Regions from separate parts of the Homo sapiens genome. Here region 1 is linked to region 2. The links come from fine-mapping of genetic effects on gene expression. Tissue or cell type: whole blood. Region 2 holds a variant in brackets; the other region holds the start of a gene. All regions are shown on one strand. Distances are between the middles of the regions.

Evidence for each region. PIP is the estimated chance that this variant, and not a neighbour inherited with it, causes the effect.
Region 1: it holds the start of BCL9L, and the variant in region 2 is fine-mapped to the expression of BCL9L in whole blood (TOPMed, PIP 0.98).

What each region holds. Positions count from the first base shown.
Region 1 is chr11:118,921,251-118,929,422 of GRCh38, forward strand. BCL9L (BCL9 like) reads right to left here and starts at 4,676. Exons shown (of 10, transcript NM_001378213.1): 1 at 3,988-4,676. RefSeq lists enhancers at 460-1,000, 2,084-2,624, 2,625-3,164, 3,393-3,462, 3,834-4,335 and 4 more and silencers at 4,531-4,580, 4,781-4,920, 5,741-5,800.
Region 2 is chr11:118,892,674-118,900,845 of GRCh38, forward strand. It overlaps CXCR5 (C-X-C motif chemokine receptor 5), which reads left to right. Exons shown (of 2, transcript NM_001716.5): 2 at 923-5,114. The coding sequence ends at 1,990. BCL9L (BCL9 like) reads right to left here. Exons shown (of 10, transcript NM_001378213.1): 8 at 7,946-8,172; 9 at 7,244-7,525; 10 at 3,463-6,835. The coding sequence ends at 5,742. Among named protein-coding and RNA genes, the nearest start is that of CXCR5, 13 kb to the left of the region's middle. RefSeq lists enhancers at 3,091-3,849, 5,469-5,976. The variant T/C (reference allele first, on the strand shown) is at 3,695.

The sequences.
Region 1 (8,172 bases), 29 kb after region 2:
CTGAGACACACACACACACAAACTTATACACACACACAAAGTAGTACGCAGCCATGTGCTAGCACACAAACTCAGACACACAAACTTGCAGCGCAGAGTGTGTGAAGTCGGATTAGAAGGCAATGCTCTGGGGAGGAGGGGAGCCTGCAGGGGGTGGAGAACCACTCAGGGATTTCAAAACAATCCTGGTTTCGAAATGCTGGAAATGCTGGATTCAGGGCCATTCCGAGTTGAGGCTGGGGGTGGGGAAGTGGAGAGTGAGGAGGAGGGGAAGACGGGCCAGCCCAGGGCTACCAGTCCATTGGAGGAGGAACGGGAACGGACAGAGGGAGTCCCAGCTCTGGTGGAAGGGGGCCTAGAATAAAACACCAGGGTTAGGAGGGGGACCAGTCCAGGGCCAAGCAGGGAGGGCCTGGGCTGCAAAGGAGAGGCCTCTGCTTTTGCCACTGACAGGAAAAGTGAGAAGGCAGGGGAAGCCGCCCCTCCCCCTTGGCATGGAGAATCAGAGGGAACCTGTCTGTGTCCTTTCCCCTACTCCTGGGCAGTGGTGACCACCTTCTCCCCTCCAGAGTGGCACCCTGGCTCCCCTTCCCCACCAGCTAGCACAGCCCCAAGGTGGGTGGAAAGCTAAGGGGTCACAGGGGATGGGGAGATGGCAAGGGCCTGCAGGAGTCAGGGGTCTTCCACAGGTTCCAGGACCCCCCACACTCAGAGCAGGCTGTGGGCATCCCCCTGGGAACCCAAGGCTTTCTTCCTCTCCACAAGGATGCGGGACCCTCGGGGAGACTGAGGCAGTGTAACACATGCCCACACCCAGGAAGTCGCCCCTCCCACGGCAGCCAGAATGCCCTTACTGCCCCTCCCCCAGCCTCCAGGGAAAGTCAGGCTGAGTTCTCCCAGGAGGGGAGGGAGGGGAGGTCAGGCCAGGCTGGGGGTGGGGCTCAGAGGCCTGGCCCTGGCACCAGGCAGAGGAAATTCCAGGCTGTAAGTCCAGGCAGCCTTCAGGGCCGCCGAGCCAAGTGACATGCACCAGCTCAGGAGCTGCAGTGCTCTGGCCTTCCCCTCCTAGCCCTGGCCTTCCAGCCCTCCAACTGGCTCCAGCCCCAGCTCTGGGACTCAGATAGGCTCCTCAGCCCTGGCAGGAGCTCCCACCAGCCCCATCCCGGCTCCTCTGGCCAGTTAGAGCTTCCCTTCCTCAGTTCCCTGAGGGCAGCCCCCACGGTGTGTTTGTGGGTGGGCAGCTGTCGGGGCTGGCAGGCAGGGGCACACATGCGGAGCTAGAGCAGCCAGGCGCTCAACAGGTTGAGCCAGTCCATGGAACAGCCGGCCCCACCCCAGGGAGAGCGGGCCTGGCAGAGGCTCCCTGCCCGCGGCACCCAGCCTGTACCCGCTTGGCTCCCACGGCTGCCCACTTTCCCACGGTGCCATCCCCCTTCTGCCCCCTCCCCCCATCGGAGGTCAGCACCCGGGCAGTGCCCAGGGCTCTGGCACAAGGAAGGAAGGGATGCCATTCCCCTGTCACCCCTGGGTGCCCAGGCTCTTGAGCTACCTCACTCTCAGCACCCAAGGAGCCCCAGAAACAGCCAGCATGGCAGCAGGACCACAAGAACCCCAAAGGACTTCCCAGGCACCTCCTTGTGGGCCTCTTCTGATTCTGGGAAGACTGGAAACTTGAACACCCCAGCTCTCCAGAGCTGTCCCAGGGTCCTGGGACAGAACTTCAGCGTGTGGTACCAGAGGCAGTGTGGGGGTGCCCCCAGCTCCTCCTATTGGACTCCCTGGAGGAGGGGCTGCAGAGCTGGGTGACAGTGGCTCTCGGACTCCCTGGAGGAGGGCTGCAGAGCTGGGTGACAGTGGCTCCCTCCACTCCTGCCCCGGCAGCTGCTGCTGCAACCCTGGTCCTTTCCTCCCACTCCACTCCTGGGCTCCATGGAGCTCCATCGCAGTCACTCCCCTGATAGGCAGGCAGCTCCCCTTTGCTCGGCATCTCCTTTAATCTAAAGCAGGTGCCAGGCATTCCAGCCCTTGCTGAGCCGACACTGCCACCCCCTAGGCCCCTGCCCAGAGGCTACTGTCCTGCCTGGTCTGGAAGTTGAGACCCCAGCCTAGGGCTCCCGCTTAACCCAGGTACCAGGACTCCAAAGGCAGGAACTAGCTAAGCAGGGTCATGGGTACCCAACACAGATTCAACAGGCAAGATCAATAGGTCCCAAATTGCCACTGAGGCGCTAGATTTCTGTGGACTGCCAATCCCTCTCTAGGACCCTGTAGTATCTCTCCGGTCCCATGACTCCCCATCCTAGTAGAGACTCATTCTGAACCTCCATATGGGCCTCCAGAACCCATCACCAGTCATGGGACCCCTTCTACTCCAGGCACAAGAGTCACTCTGGATCCAAGATTTTAGGTATTCTACCTGCCCCTCAGCACCCTTCCTGCTGTGAACCATCACCCCACCCCACTCAGGAGCAACATGGGTAAGCAGGGAACCCCTAGAGGGAGGTGGCCAGAAGGCTGCTTCCAGGCCTGGCTCTCCAAGGCCAAGGAGGCAAATCACCTGGGGGAGGCGGCACCTTCCTTCCTGGCACCAGCCTCCCAGTCTCTCTCCCTGCTCCTCACCTTCCTCACCCATTCTCTCCCTGTCCTGTCCTGAGGCCTCTATCAGCAGGGCCTCAGAGCTGACACCAGGAAGACAGGGCCTGAGCATGCTCCTCCTCTGGGGTCATGAAATTGTGGTCCTGACCTGGAGAAGGTAGCCCGGCCCATGCTGAGAGGCAGCAGAAGAGCAAGGCAGCCCCTGCCCGGAAGTGGCTGCTCCCTGGAGAGACCAAGAAGAGAAGGAGAAGACAGTGGAAGCCCACTCACTGTGGTGGTCTCATCCAGAGAGCTGCTCAGAGGCAGCAGCAGAGTTGGAGCAGATACAGGGCACAGTCAGCTTTCACACTAAACCAAGGCTGGGAGTGAGGGCAGAAGATCCAGGGAGGCTTGGAACCCCTTTGTGAGGGCTCAAACACACGCCCAGTTCACCTCTCTCAGAGCAACACTTTTTCTCCTCGCAGCAGAGGTTCCCCCAGACACAGACACAGACACAGACACACACCCCAAGCAGTAGACAGAAAGAGAAGGGAGAGAGGGGGTGTCAGAAAAACCCGGAAGGAAGGAAGCTGGACAGACAGACAGTAGCTGATCCTAGCTTCATTGCTCCAGAGAGACACCCTCCAGACTCCTAGACTTCAAGGGACACTATCCTTCTCAGAAGGAGAGAGCAGCCCTCTGTCTCTTCTGAAACCAAATTCCAGCAGCCCTGGAATAGGACCTACCCCAGCGCAACAAGAAGCCTAAGCTCACTTCTCTTCCTACATTCTTCCCCGAGGGTTCCTTTGGATCAAGACAGGGGCCACCTCCCCTTAGCAGCGCAGGGACACTTCCAAGGAACTGTATGACTGCCCCACCCCCCAGCCAAGCCCACATCACTCAGAAGCCTTGGAAGAAGAGACTCCTCAGTCACAGCCCCCGCTACTCACAGGCAGTGCCTGGGAGAAAAGGGTGACCCCCAGCTCTCCCCAGTCCCAACCCACCTCCTTCTGGAGGCTCCTATCAGCCAGAGGAGGAGGGCTGGGGTGCTGAGACCCACGGGGTTGGTGAGCCTGGGAGGGGGACTACATCTCCCAGAAGCCCCCAGGGCAAGGTTCGCTGCTCCAGCTGGCCCAAGGCCGGCCTTGTTCTCTGCGCTAGGGTGGCAGGGTCCCCTGGCTGTCCCTAAGCCCTCCCCACGGTGTTCTGGAGCTGCCAACCTGATTGGGGGCTTAAGAGTAGCCTCCACTGACCCTGGGGGAGTCCCCCACACCTTAAACAGCCTGGGGGTACGTGCCAGAGAGCAAGAGACAATCAGACTGTGTTTCCCCTCCCCGATTCAAACTGGATCTCCCTCCTCGCGCCTCTGCTGGCCTGGCATGACTTTCGCCTTGCCCCCAGCCCACCCCTCACCTCACGCGGATTGGGGGGTCCTCACGCCAGGCCGGAGCTGGACGCCATGACCAGGTCAGGGTCGTTGTGTGGATGGGGGTCCTCCTGCTCGCCAGTTGGAGATGCAGAGGGGGCGGGCAGGCGGTGATCTTTTGATCCTGGACGCCTTGATCTCAATACCAGCCCGGCCCGGGAGAGGCTATCCGGGGATCGCTGGGTGCCTGGGTTCCTGCCTCCCAACCGCGGAGCATGGTCGCGGGCGCCGGGCAGTGGCGGGAGAGCGCGCACACCCGCCGGGGCCGGGGCGCGGGGCCGGGGTCTCGGCCCCGAACCTCAGGGCTCCGGCTCCTGCTCCTGCTCCTCCTTCCCTTGCTTGCTTGCTTGCTTCCTTCCTTCCTTCCTCGCCTCTCCTTTCCTTTCCCCAAAGCCCGCGGGAATGCCGGGCGCTGGGTGGGGAGGGGCTGTCTGGGCGCTTATTGTTGGTCGGACTCCGAGGGTCCGGGTCACAGCCCCCGGGCGGCGCGGCGCCGGGGGACCCAGGCGTGCGGGCGTCCGGCCGGCTGGCTCCGGGCGGCGGCGGTGGTGCAGCGGCCCCGGGTCCGGGGCATGTCCAGCCACTGGCTCCGCCGCGCGCCGCCGCCTCCCCGGGCTCCCCTGCGCTGCCGGAGCCTCGCTTGCCCCTCCACTCGGCTCCACTCCCCAGCCTGAATAAGCATCGGGGCTCTCTGGCTGCCTCCTTCTGCCTTCATACCAGAGCCCGGAGAGGCCCCTGTCAAAATAAGAGCTCCCCCATCTCGCTTGCCTCCTCGCCCAACCCGGCTCCCCCAGCCTCCCAGTGGTCTGACTCGGTAAGGCGCCCGGCCGGCTAGCGGGAGGCAGGTTGGCCCGGGGGCGGGGAGGGGGGTTTCTGCTCTCCTCCTCACTCCTGAGAACTGGGGAGGAGACGCGCCAACAACATCCCAGGCTAGGGAAAGGTTTGACAAACCTACCTTCCTATCTGCACTGATTGGAAGGAGTGGAAGTTGCCTGGACACACGCGCGCGCACACACACACACACACACAGCACTGGGTCCCCTCTTCGTTGTACCCACCCACATCCATAATGCACTGAGCATCTCTTTATTCATGTCTCTCCTAGTAGACCATGAGGTCCTTGAGGACACAGACTGAGTTTTTTCATCTCAATCCTCAGCAGCACAAAGTGCATGCTAAGAAAATGTTTGTGGAAGTGAAACCTTTGTCTTCTCAAAAGAACTCTCCTAACCTAACCTCAAAGTGCTTCTCTCTCTCTCTCTCTCTCTCACACACACACACACACACACACACACTCTCACCACCCTATAGGACGATCGAGGCAATGAAAAAGAAAATGTAAAGCCCTTTTTTTTTTTTGAGATGGAGTTTCGCTCTTGTTGCCCAGGCTGGAGTGCAAAGGCGCGGTCTCAGCTCACTGTAACCTCTGCCTTCTGGGTTAAAGCGATTCTCCTGCCTGAACCTCCCAAGTAGCTGGGATTGCAGGCACCTGCCACCATGCCCGGCTAATTTTGTATTTTTAGTAGAGACAGCGTTTCACCATGTCGGCCAGGCTGGTCTCGAACTACTGACCTCAGGTGATCAACCTGCCTTGGCCTCCCAAAGTGCTGGGATTACAGGCGTGAGCCACCGCGCCCGGCCCAAAGCGCTTTTTAAAAACATTTCACATGTTTCAATGCTCACCACAAACCTGCAAGAAAGAGGTTATGGTCCCATTACAGAGGTGAGGAAATTGAGGTTTGCATTACCTAAGGACTTACCCAGAGCTACCCAGCTAGAAAGTGGTAAGCCCAGGACTAGAATTTGGGTCTCCTTATCCCAGGGCACTTTCCCTGTTTCCTACTGTCCCCACCCACCCAGAATTAATAGCAAGTGACAAGCATTGACTGTGTCTGATAGGAAGAACACTAGCCAGCCTGCTTGTTCCTGCTGTTTCCTCGGCCCTCTCCCCTGCCCCTCCTCACAGATGGTCCCCAGATAGTTCTAGCCTCACTGACCTCCCTCTCTTCTGACCACCTATCCCATCATAGCATCTGAGTACTTCCTGATGTGTTGTATCTTGTCACACACACACACACACATATATATATACACACACACACCCCTATATATGTATAGGTGTATGCACACACACACATATATATATATGTCTGATTTCCCCCAAAAGATTCCTAAGGGCCTTGAGGGGTTGATGGTGCCAACAGCTGGGCACTGGACAAGGTTTAGGGAGGCACAGGTGGAAGGGGACAAAAACCTGAAAGAAGATAACATAGTAACCCCCCCCCATGTGTCCCATCACTGCTTACAAAGCATTTTCATGCACGTTGTCTCATGATGATGCTTTGATCCAATCACCAAAACTTTTCCAAGTGCCAGCCTGCTGTGCCAAGCACTGTCCTGGGTTAGGGGGTTGAATCACCACAGTCCTGAGAAGTCGATTTTATCCCCACTTAAAAGAAAAGAAAACCAAAGCCCAGAGAGGCTTCTAATGTGAAAGATCCCAGCACCTAGGCTAGTACCTGACCCATGGAAATAAGGTTTAATTTCTTATCTCCTCTCCAGAAAGACATAATATGGGCCCCCACTTCTCCAACAGGGTGCTTCTTAGAGGGGACCACTGCATTTATGTGGATCAGTCTCCCCTTACATATATGACAAGCCAAAGGGGCTTGTTATGATCTCTTTGGCACAATTCCTGGTTCGTAGTAGGTCCAAAACAGTGTTTGCAGGGGCAAGTGAGTCTGTGTTGCCAGGGGTCTCTTAAATGGTGCACAATACATGTCCTATGGAGCAGCCACGCGGAGCGCTCCCCTGGGTGGGGCTGTGACTCATTCCCCCAGCGGAGGTTCCAGGTTGGGATTCGGAGCTGAGCTCTGGGCAGCCACAAGTTCTGGGTGGAACCCTGGAGAGAGCCAGGAGGAAAGGAGAGAGGCAGGGGGCCCTTGCTGGAATCGAGCGGCTCCCTCTACTGGCCAACTCGGGGAACCTCTGTCTTTCCGTGTATCTGTGTGTCACTGTGTCACGAGGGGTGTCACAGGTGTGTCAGCGTTGGCGTTCGTCGGTGGAAGTGCCCGCATGGGTATGGGTGCGTGAGGGTGCCCGTTCGTGACGCAGTGTGGGTGTGCCAGCGCCACGAGGGGCTGTTTCTGGAAGCACAGTGTGTACACACAACCGTATCTTGTAATACAATTTACTTTGGGGCTGCTGGGGGTCTGAGATTAGGCATCCCGTTGCCGGGGTTACTAGGACAAAAGGATTCTCCAGCTGGTACTCCTCACCGGCTGGAGCACTAGCCCGAGAAGGTGGGAGGAGTCCAGACCAAACAGTTCCTGAAAAGGACTCTATCACCTAAAGCAAATAGGGACCCAAGAAAGAGTTAACGCAGAGCCCCACAGTGACTTCAATCATTGGCTCAGGGCACTGTCAGTCAGAGGTCTGGGGGCGGGGTTTGTGGGGCCTCCATCTGACTGCCCAGCGCCCCTCACTTGCCCCTCGACCCCCACATCATCTCACTGCTGGGCTGCGCCCGCACCCCCATCTTGGTGGCGACACCGTCCTGGGCCCTGGAGGAAGAGCCGATCCGGGCATCCTGGCTTCCCCACTCACTCCAGCTGCCTGGCTTCCTGATAGATGGTGATTATATAATAGACTTGCTGGACAGAACCGTGCCAGCGCTCGGAACACTTTGCCCCCTCCTCGAAGCCTGCCCCAGGGCCTGGCACCTGCCACACAGAGCCTGCTGCCGGGTTCTGCCGGCGCCCCCCAGCAACGCCTCCATTTCGGGGTGGGAGACCCCAGGACAAGGTCCTGGGATGGGGCGGGCGCCAAGCGGAGAGAAGCAGGGCGGGTGCCCCGCGGGTCTCAGGGTCGGCCTGAGGAGTGTGGATTCACAAGCGCCTCTCAGGATAGTGGGACCCGCCTGGCCCCTTCCAACCTGAGCTTGCAACTTGGGAGCCAATAGAGGAGCAGGGGCCAGGGTGGGAACGGGAAGGAGTTTGGAAAAGGTGTGGGGGCAGGAAAGGGAGGCTGAGAGAGGGGGCCGGCTGGGGCAGGGGGGAGGGACTCTTATCCCTCACCACTGCCGCCTTCCCCGACTGGAGGGTTTGGAAAAACTGAGCAGGCAGCAAGGCTTGGCTGGAAATCCTGCAGCCCACCCTCCTGGGGACACAAAG
Region 2 (8,172 bases):
GGGGTGATGGGGAGAGGAAGAGGAGGATGGGGAGGAGGGAACTTCCGGAGACATCACGGGCACACCCCCTGCACTTGGAGCAGGCTCTCTCCTTCTCTCCTGCCAGTCTCCCCGTGTCGCCCTCACTTTCTCCTGCCTCTCTCTGCCTCTGGGCTTTCTGCTTCTGAGTGCTCCTAGCTGCAGGGAGGTTGCCAGTGATGGGAAGTAGCAGGGAGCCTGCATCTGCTGCCCCTAGAAGGAAGCCCAGGCAGGGTTGTTCAGTGGGAGGTACTGGCTTTGGAAGTAGATAAACGTCGGTTCACACAAACCTGATCTTTAGCAAGACACATCTGTGAAATAGGAATAATATTACATACCTTGAGCGGGTTGTGCATATTGAACCAGATGGGAGGCTATTACTGCCATTTCAGTGATAACAGAGACAGTCAGGAACAGGAAGACCCATGAGGAGGGAGCCCACAGGCCAAGTCAGCACCCGCCCGCCCCTAGTCCCCAGCACAATGCTAAGTTGCAGTGCCCGACTGTTCTGCTCAGAACTGGAACAGATGGGTCCTTGTACCAAGCAGGTCCATTCCCCAAATTGAAGTCCTGTGACTCCAGCCGCCAAGGCTGCAGGCTTCCGTACATGAGGACCCAAAAACACAAGCTGACTTATGGGGTCCAGCCCTCCAGCACTTACAAAGCTCAGCCACCCGCACGCCTCCCTTCATCAGCACCACCACTCTAAGGAATGCGGTCCCTTTGACAGGCGAAAAACTGAAGTTGGAAAAGACAAAGTGATTTGTTCAAAATTGAAATTTGAAACTTGACATTTGGTCAGTGGGCCCTATGTAGGAAAAAACCTCCAAGAGAGCTAGGGTTCCTCTCAGAGAGGAAAGACAGGTCCTTAGGTCCTCACCCTCCCGTCTCCTTGCCCTTGCAGTTCTGGGAACTGGACAGATTGGACAACTATAACGACACCTCCCTGGTGGAAAATCATCTCTGCCCTGCCACAGAGGGGCCCCTCATGGCCTCCTTCAAGGCCGTGTTCGTGCCCGTGGCCTACAGCCTCATCTTCCTCCTGGGCGTGATCGGCAACGTCCTGGTGCTGGTGATCCTGGAGCGGCACCGGCAGACACGCAGTTCCACGGAGACCTTCCTGTTCCACCTGGCCGTGGCCGACCTCCTGCTGGTCTTCATCTTGCCCTTTGCCGTGGCCGAGGGCTCTGTGGGCTGGGTCCTGGGGACCTTCCTCTGCAAAACTGTGATTGCCCTGCACAAAGTCAACTTCTACTGCAGCAGCCTGCTCCTGGCCTGCATCGCCGTGGACCGCTACCTGGCCATTGTCCACGCCGTCCATGCCTACCGCCACCGCCGCCTCCTCTCCATCCACATCACCTGTGGGACCATCTGGCTGGTGGGCTTCCTCCTTGCCTTGCCAGAGATTCTCTTCGCCAAAGTCAGCCAAGGCCATCACAACAACTCCCTGCCACGTTGCACCTTCTCCCAAGAGAACCAAGCAGAAACGCATGCCTGGTTCACCTCCCGATTCCTCTACCATGTGGCGGGATTCCTGCTGCCCATGCTGGTGATGGGCTGGTGCTACGTGGGGGTAGTGCACAGGTTGCGCCAGGCCCAGCGGCGCCCTCAGCGGCAGAAGGCAGTCAGGGTGGCCATCCTGGTGACAAGCATCTTCTTCCTCTGCTGGTCACCCTACCACATCGTCATCTTCCTGGACACCCTGGCGAGGCTGAAGGCCGTGGACAATACCTGCAAGCTGAATGGCTCTCTCCCCGTGGCCATCACCATGTGTGAGTTCCTGGGCCTGGCCCACTGCTGCCTCAACCCCATGCTCTACACTTTCGCCGGCGTGAAGTTCCGCAGTGACCTGTCGCGGCTCCTGACGAAGCTGGGCTGTACCGGCCCTGCCTCCCTGTGCCAGCTCTTCCCTAGCTGGCGCAGGAGCAGTCTCTCTGAGTCAGAGAATGCCACCTCTCTCACCACGTTCTAGGTCCCAGTGTCCCCTTTTATTGCTGCTTTTCCTTGGGGCAGGCAGTGATGCTGGATGCTCCTTCCAACAGGAGCTGGGATCCTAAGGGCTCACCGTGGCTAAGAGTGTCCTAGGAGTATCCTCATTTGGGGTAGCTAGAGGAACCAACCCCCATTTCTAGAACATCCCTGCCAGCTCTTCTGCCGGCCCTGGGGCTAGGCTGGAGCCCAGGGAGCGGAAAGCAGCTCAAAGGCACAGTGAAGGCTGTCCTTACCCATCTGCACCCCCCTGGGCTGAGAGAACCTCACGCACCTCCCATCCTAATCATCCAATGCTCAAGAAACAACTTCTACTTCTGCCCTTGCCAACGGAGAGCGCCTGCCCCTCCCAGAACACACTCCATCAGCTTAGGGGCTGCTGACCTCCACAGCTTCCCCTCTCTCCTCCTGCCCACCTGTCAAACAAAGCCAGAAGCTGAGCACCAGGGGATGAGTGGAGGTTAAGGCTGAGGAAAGGCCAGCTGGCAGCAGAGTGTGGCCTTCGGACAACTCAGTCCCTAAAAACACAGACATTCTGCCAGGCCCCCAAGCCTGCAGTCATCTTGACCAAGCAGGAAGCTCAGACTGGTTGAGTTCAGGTAGCTGCCCCTGGCTCTGACCGAAACAGCGCTGGGTCCACCCCATGTCACCGGATCCTGGGTGGTCTGCAGGCAGGGCTGACTCTAGGTGCCCTTGGAGGCCAGCCAGTGACCTGAGGAAGCGTGAAGGCCGAGAAGCAAGAAAGAAACCCGACAGAGGGAAGAAAAGAGCTTTCTTCCCGAACCCCAAGGAGGGAGATGGATCAATCAAACCCGGCGGTCCCCTCCGCCAGGCGAGATGGGGTGGGGTGGAGAACTCCTAGGGTGGCTGGGTCCAGGGGATGGGAGGTTGTGGGCATTGATGGGGAAGGAGGCTGGCTTGTCCCCTCCTCACTCCCTTCCCATAAGCTATAGACCCGAGGAAACTCAGAGTCGGAACGGAGAAAGGTGGACTGGAAGGGGCCCGTGGGAGTCATCTCAACCATCCCCTCCGTGGCATCACCTTAGGCAGGGAAGTGTAAGAAACACACTGAGGCAGGGAAGTCCCCAGGCCCCAGGAAGCCGTGCCCTGCCCCCGTGAGGATGTCACTCAGATGGAACCGCAGGAAGCTGCTCCGTGCTTGTTTGCTCACCTGGGGTGTGGGAGGCCCGTCCGGCAGTTCTGGGTGCTCCCTACCACCTCCCCAGCCTTTGATCAGGTGGGGAGTCAGGGACCCCTGCCCTTGTCCCACTCAAGCCAAGCAGCCAAGCTCCTTGGGAGGCCCCACTGGGGAAATAACAGCTGTGGCTCACGTGAGAGTGTCTTCACGGCAGGACAACGAGGAAGCCCTAAGACGTCCCTTTTTTCTCTGAGTATCTCCTCGCAAGCTGGGTAATCGATGGGGGAGTCTGAAGCAGATGCAAAGAGGCAAGAGGCTGGATTTTGAATTTTCTTTTTAATAAAAAGGCACCTATAAAACAGGTCAATACAGTACAGGCAGCACAGAGACCCCCGGAACAAGCCTAAAAATTGTTTCAAAATAAAAACCAAGAAGATGTCTTCACATATTGTATTTATATATTTATATTTATATATATATTTATATAATGGTACAAAATGGCTGGGGGTGTGGCCATGGATGGAGGGAAGAGTAGGCTGGCCTGTGGCG[T/C]GGGTGGGAGGAGAGGGGACGGAGAGGGCACTCGGCCCGCTGCAATCTGACCCCTCTCTCCTCAGGGCAGGAAACACAGAGTCAGACAGTTTGGGGGGGTCTTGGGCCAGGGGTGGAGGGCTCAAGGGCACAGGGCCCAGGCTGAGGCAGGGCGGGCAAAGCGCCTGGCAGGATGAAGGGCAAGTGGCCCCCCAAACACAGAGGCCCTGGCCATGGACCCTGGGAGGTGACCGGGGTGAGTCAGGGGCCTGTTGTCAGCCCCAGAGGAAGCGCTGGACCTGGCCGATGGTGGGCCGAGAGGACAGCACCAGGCTGGGAGAAGTGGGGCGAGTTCCCTTTGTATTACAGCTGCCAGTGCAAGACCAGGCCCTCCAGGCCAGGAAGGCTAGGGACGGGTCCTGGTAGAAGACACCCTGTCTAGAATGGCCCTTGGTCCTGGAGGTGGGGCGCAAAAGGCCTCAGCCAGGGAACTGCCCTGCCACCTCCCGAGGCAGGAAAGGAAGTGAGAAAAGGAGAAGTTTTTTTACTCCTGGGGCCAAAGTAGGGGGACAAACACCCAGTCGTATATGGCTTCAGCTCTGACCAAAGGCGGATAGGGAGCTCTCCTGGGTAGGAGCAGGGAGCCAAGGGGGAGGCAGTGGCTGTGCCTGGGTGGGCACAGACAGATCTGGTACATGGCCCTGAGCCCTGGGCAGAGGGACAACCTTGCCGGTGAGTGGGCAGGCAGAGAGGAGGCGGCAGGATGCTGTTTCCCCGATTCCATCCTCAGGGAGTGGAGACTGGAGGGGAGGTGCACTGACTCAGATGAACTGTTCTCCCCCTTCTTTGATAAGAAGTAGGTGGCAGCAGCCTCTGGAAAAGTCAGGGCCCTGGAGGTTACCTGGCCCAGGGCTACTACAGCCACAGGCCCCAGTGGCACCATGCCACCCCTTCCATGGCTCCACTCAAGGGGGCCACACAGCCACCGCCTCTTCCTCCTTTCCTTCATCCCAAACTGGGACAAAAGACTTCAAGTTCTGGCTAAGATGTAGCAGCAGCGGATGCCCGGGCATCCAAAGTGGAAAGCCAGGGCCCCGTGTCACCGGTGTGGGCAAACACACATGCACGTGCACACATGTTCTCCCTGAATCACTCAGCAGCAGACAGGCTGCCGCCCTGGGGGTCTCAGCCCTGCTAGGGCTCACCAGGTGGAAGCCTAGGTGGTCTGACCTCAGTTTAGGAGTGGGTCATTTACGTCATCTTACCATTTGGGGACGAGACAGGAATGGTATCCCTTAGGGACCCAGAGACACTGCAAACAGTGGGTGGCCATGTAGGGCTGCATGTCCCTGGGTCCAGGGGAATGGAGGGAGCAATAACTTGAAGAAGGGGGGAAGGGTTTCTTTTATCCTTTTTTTTTTGTGTGACTTCTATCAAAACACAGAAATACAGCACACGCACAAACCAGCACAAAAGCGCAGCGCTCTATTTACAGCTCCGGCTGGCACCTGCCCACCTGGCCAGCCGCCTGCAGGGAGGGGTGGGAGAGGGGTCAGCCACATCAGCAGGGAAAGGATACGAAGCAGGTAAAGACAGAAGGAAAATGGGCGGGTGCGGAGAAACCAAGAGGGAGGTGGAGCTCCAGCAATGCGGACACGAGGAGACAGGAGCAGAAGGGGCTGGGGGAGACCTGACCTGTCCTTCCTCTCTCCCCCCAGATTCCCATCCAGGACTCCAAAAGCATAGCTGAAGGGGGTGTGGCGGGTGCAGGGATGCACGGAAAGAGGTAAAATAGAGAGGCTCCATAGGAATTGGGAGGAGTGGGGGAGGGGCAGTCCTGGTGGCCGAAATGGAACCAACCCCAATGCAAAATCCCCCACCCCACACTGCCACTTCCCCCTAAGCTGCCAGCACATCTGGTTTCCACAAATGCCACTCCCTACACAAGCCCCCTCCCACCCCCTCCACCCCACCCCGCGACCCAGGCCATCCCAACATTGAGGGGAAGAACTTTGTTAAGGTTATCGTATTTGCAACATTGCCCCGGCTCCAGCCCTGGCAGCGACTTCTAGAAGGGCAGGTTGGCCATGCCGCCTGGTGCCGGGAGGTAGCCCATCTGGCTGTCCAGGGACACACTGCGCTGCCGAAGGGGGTGGGACACCATGAGGTTCTGCTGGGGCGGGGGGCCCATGAGGGAGCCCTGCGGGGAGAGCATGTGGGGCGGCTGGCTGTAGACCTCGCCCCCCACGCCCCGCTGCTTCATCAGCATGAAATTCTGCTGGGTCATGAGGCCTTGTGGAGGGGACATGACCCCCTGGTGCAGGCCATGGGGCACCATCCCCTGCTGTGGGGGCACGCCTGTCCTGCCCAGCAAGGACATCTGTCCAGGGTGGCACATGGACATGTTGAGCCCCCGCTGGACGCCCTGCTGGCCTGGGAGGTTGGGAGGCCGAGAGGGAGTCTGCTCCGCCATCATGTTCTGCAGGTTCATGAGATGCAGATTAGGGGGCTGAGCCTTGGGGGGCTGGTTCTCGCTCTTGGGGAAGTACTGGAGGGTGCTGCTTGGCTTCTCAGAGGGGATGATCCTCGACAAGTCGAACTCGGGGATCCCCGTTGGGGTGGGCCGGATCACCTCGCTCAGCTCGGGGTCGTTCAGCACTGATGCCACCCCAGGGAGCACACCCGGTGGGTATGCGTCGCCCATGCGCCCAGCCATGGCTTTGCCCATCAGGTGCTGCTGGGGAGGCATGGGGCCTGGCGGCTGGTTGGGCAGGTCCTCGGGAGGCAGGGCCATGCCTGACGGGTAGTGCTGCTGCAGGCCAGGCCCCCCGCCCCCACCCCCAGTGGGGGCCATGGCACCATGGGGCTGCTGCAGCCGAGGGGGGAAGGGCATCATCTGGGAGGAGCTGGGCACTGGGCCACAGGGGGCATTCAGGGAGTCGGGGCCCCCTGGGGCCATCATCATGGAGTTTTGAGGGGGCCCCCCTGTCCCCTGTGCGTTGGGATGCAGTGGAATGTTGGAGCCCAGAGGGGTGGGGGAGGGCAGCATGGCGGGCGGGGGCTCATGGGACAGGGGCTGCTGGCCTGGCAGGTTCATGCCCATAGGGCTCTGGGCAGCGGCTGAGTTCAGGTGCATCTGGCTGGGCTGGCTGTTGCTGATCCCTGTAGGGAATAGAAGACAGGGGGTCAGGCACGGTGTGCCCAGCTCGGGGAGGGTGCAGGGCTCAGGCCTTCCCCACTCCCAAGCCAGGGGGTGCCAGAGGTCAAAGTCTTCACCACTGGCTTCCCCTGGCTGGGAGGGAAGGGACTGGAGGCATTGATGCTAGAAGCCAAGAGACCAAGTTCTGGCCCAGTTCGCCAGACACACCACCAGGTGTTGGAAAGACCACTCGAGTGCTCTGGGCTGGGTTTCCCTAATGACTCCAGCGAGTGGGAACAGCATCCCGGAGCCTCCACCCCCACACCCAGGGCCTTCAGAGGCACAAAAAAGCCAGCACAACCACAGCTGTGCTCCCCGCTCCCAGTGCCCACACCAGCTGGCCTCCCTGGGGCCCTGGCCTGTCCTCGCACCTGGCCCGGAGCCCTGCGGTGGTGGTGGGGGGGGCAGCAGGGGCCGGTCGGGCAGCAGCTCGTCGTCTGAGGTGGCGATGGTCTTGATGGCATTGTGGTAGAGCGGGGTGGAGCTGGGCATGGCGTACTTGGACATCTGGGTCATCATCAGTGACAGGGGGTTCTGGGAAGGTGTGGGGTCTGGGGAGGAAGTGAATGGTAGGCTGGGGTTCATGAGGCCGCTGGGAGGGTTGGCGGGAGGTGCTGAGGAGCTGCTCCGGGGGCCGCTAGGCGGGAGGGTACCTACAGAAACGGGGAGACAAAGAGAGCAGGGGTGACTGGGGAGGGGCAGATGAGTTTGGCTGTGGATATGGGGAGGTTTAGGAAGCGGTCAGTTCCCCAAATCACCTGGTCCTTCAGACACACCCACAGGCCCCCACTATCTCCAGAGCCCACCAGTCTTCAAGCAATTCCTGCAGCCTCAGGGCCCCAGGCAAGGGGAAGATCCCAGGCCCCAAGTACGATCACTCAAAATGCCTGGGAGACTCACGTGGTACCCCCTGAGAAAGCCCACAAATGTCATCATCTGCCCCATAAGCAGAGCCATCCACCTCTGGGCCCGTGGTACACAGGCCCTTACTCACTCACTGCCCAGCCCCAGCATGGACACACTGCTCAGCGCCTGCCTGCCTGCCTGCCTGCCTGCCTGCGCAATTGACTCACCCTGTTCCATGTTGCTCAGGGTGGTGGAAGAGTTCATGTTGAGAGGCGGCTGCTTGTTCTGGGAGACCCCCGGGCTGGGCATGGCCGTCTTAGGTGAGGCAACCCAGCCTGGAGAAGGCACCGCCATGGAAGGAGACTTGAGCCTGCTGGGCGAGCCAGTGGGTGAACGGACACTGAGGGAGGAGCCGAGGACCTGGGGCGACTTGAGAGGTCCTGGCGGGTTGGCA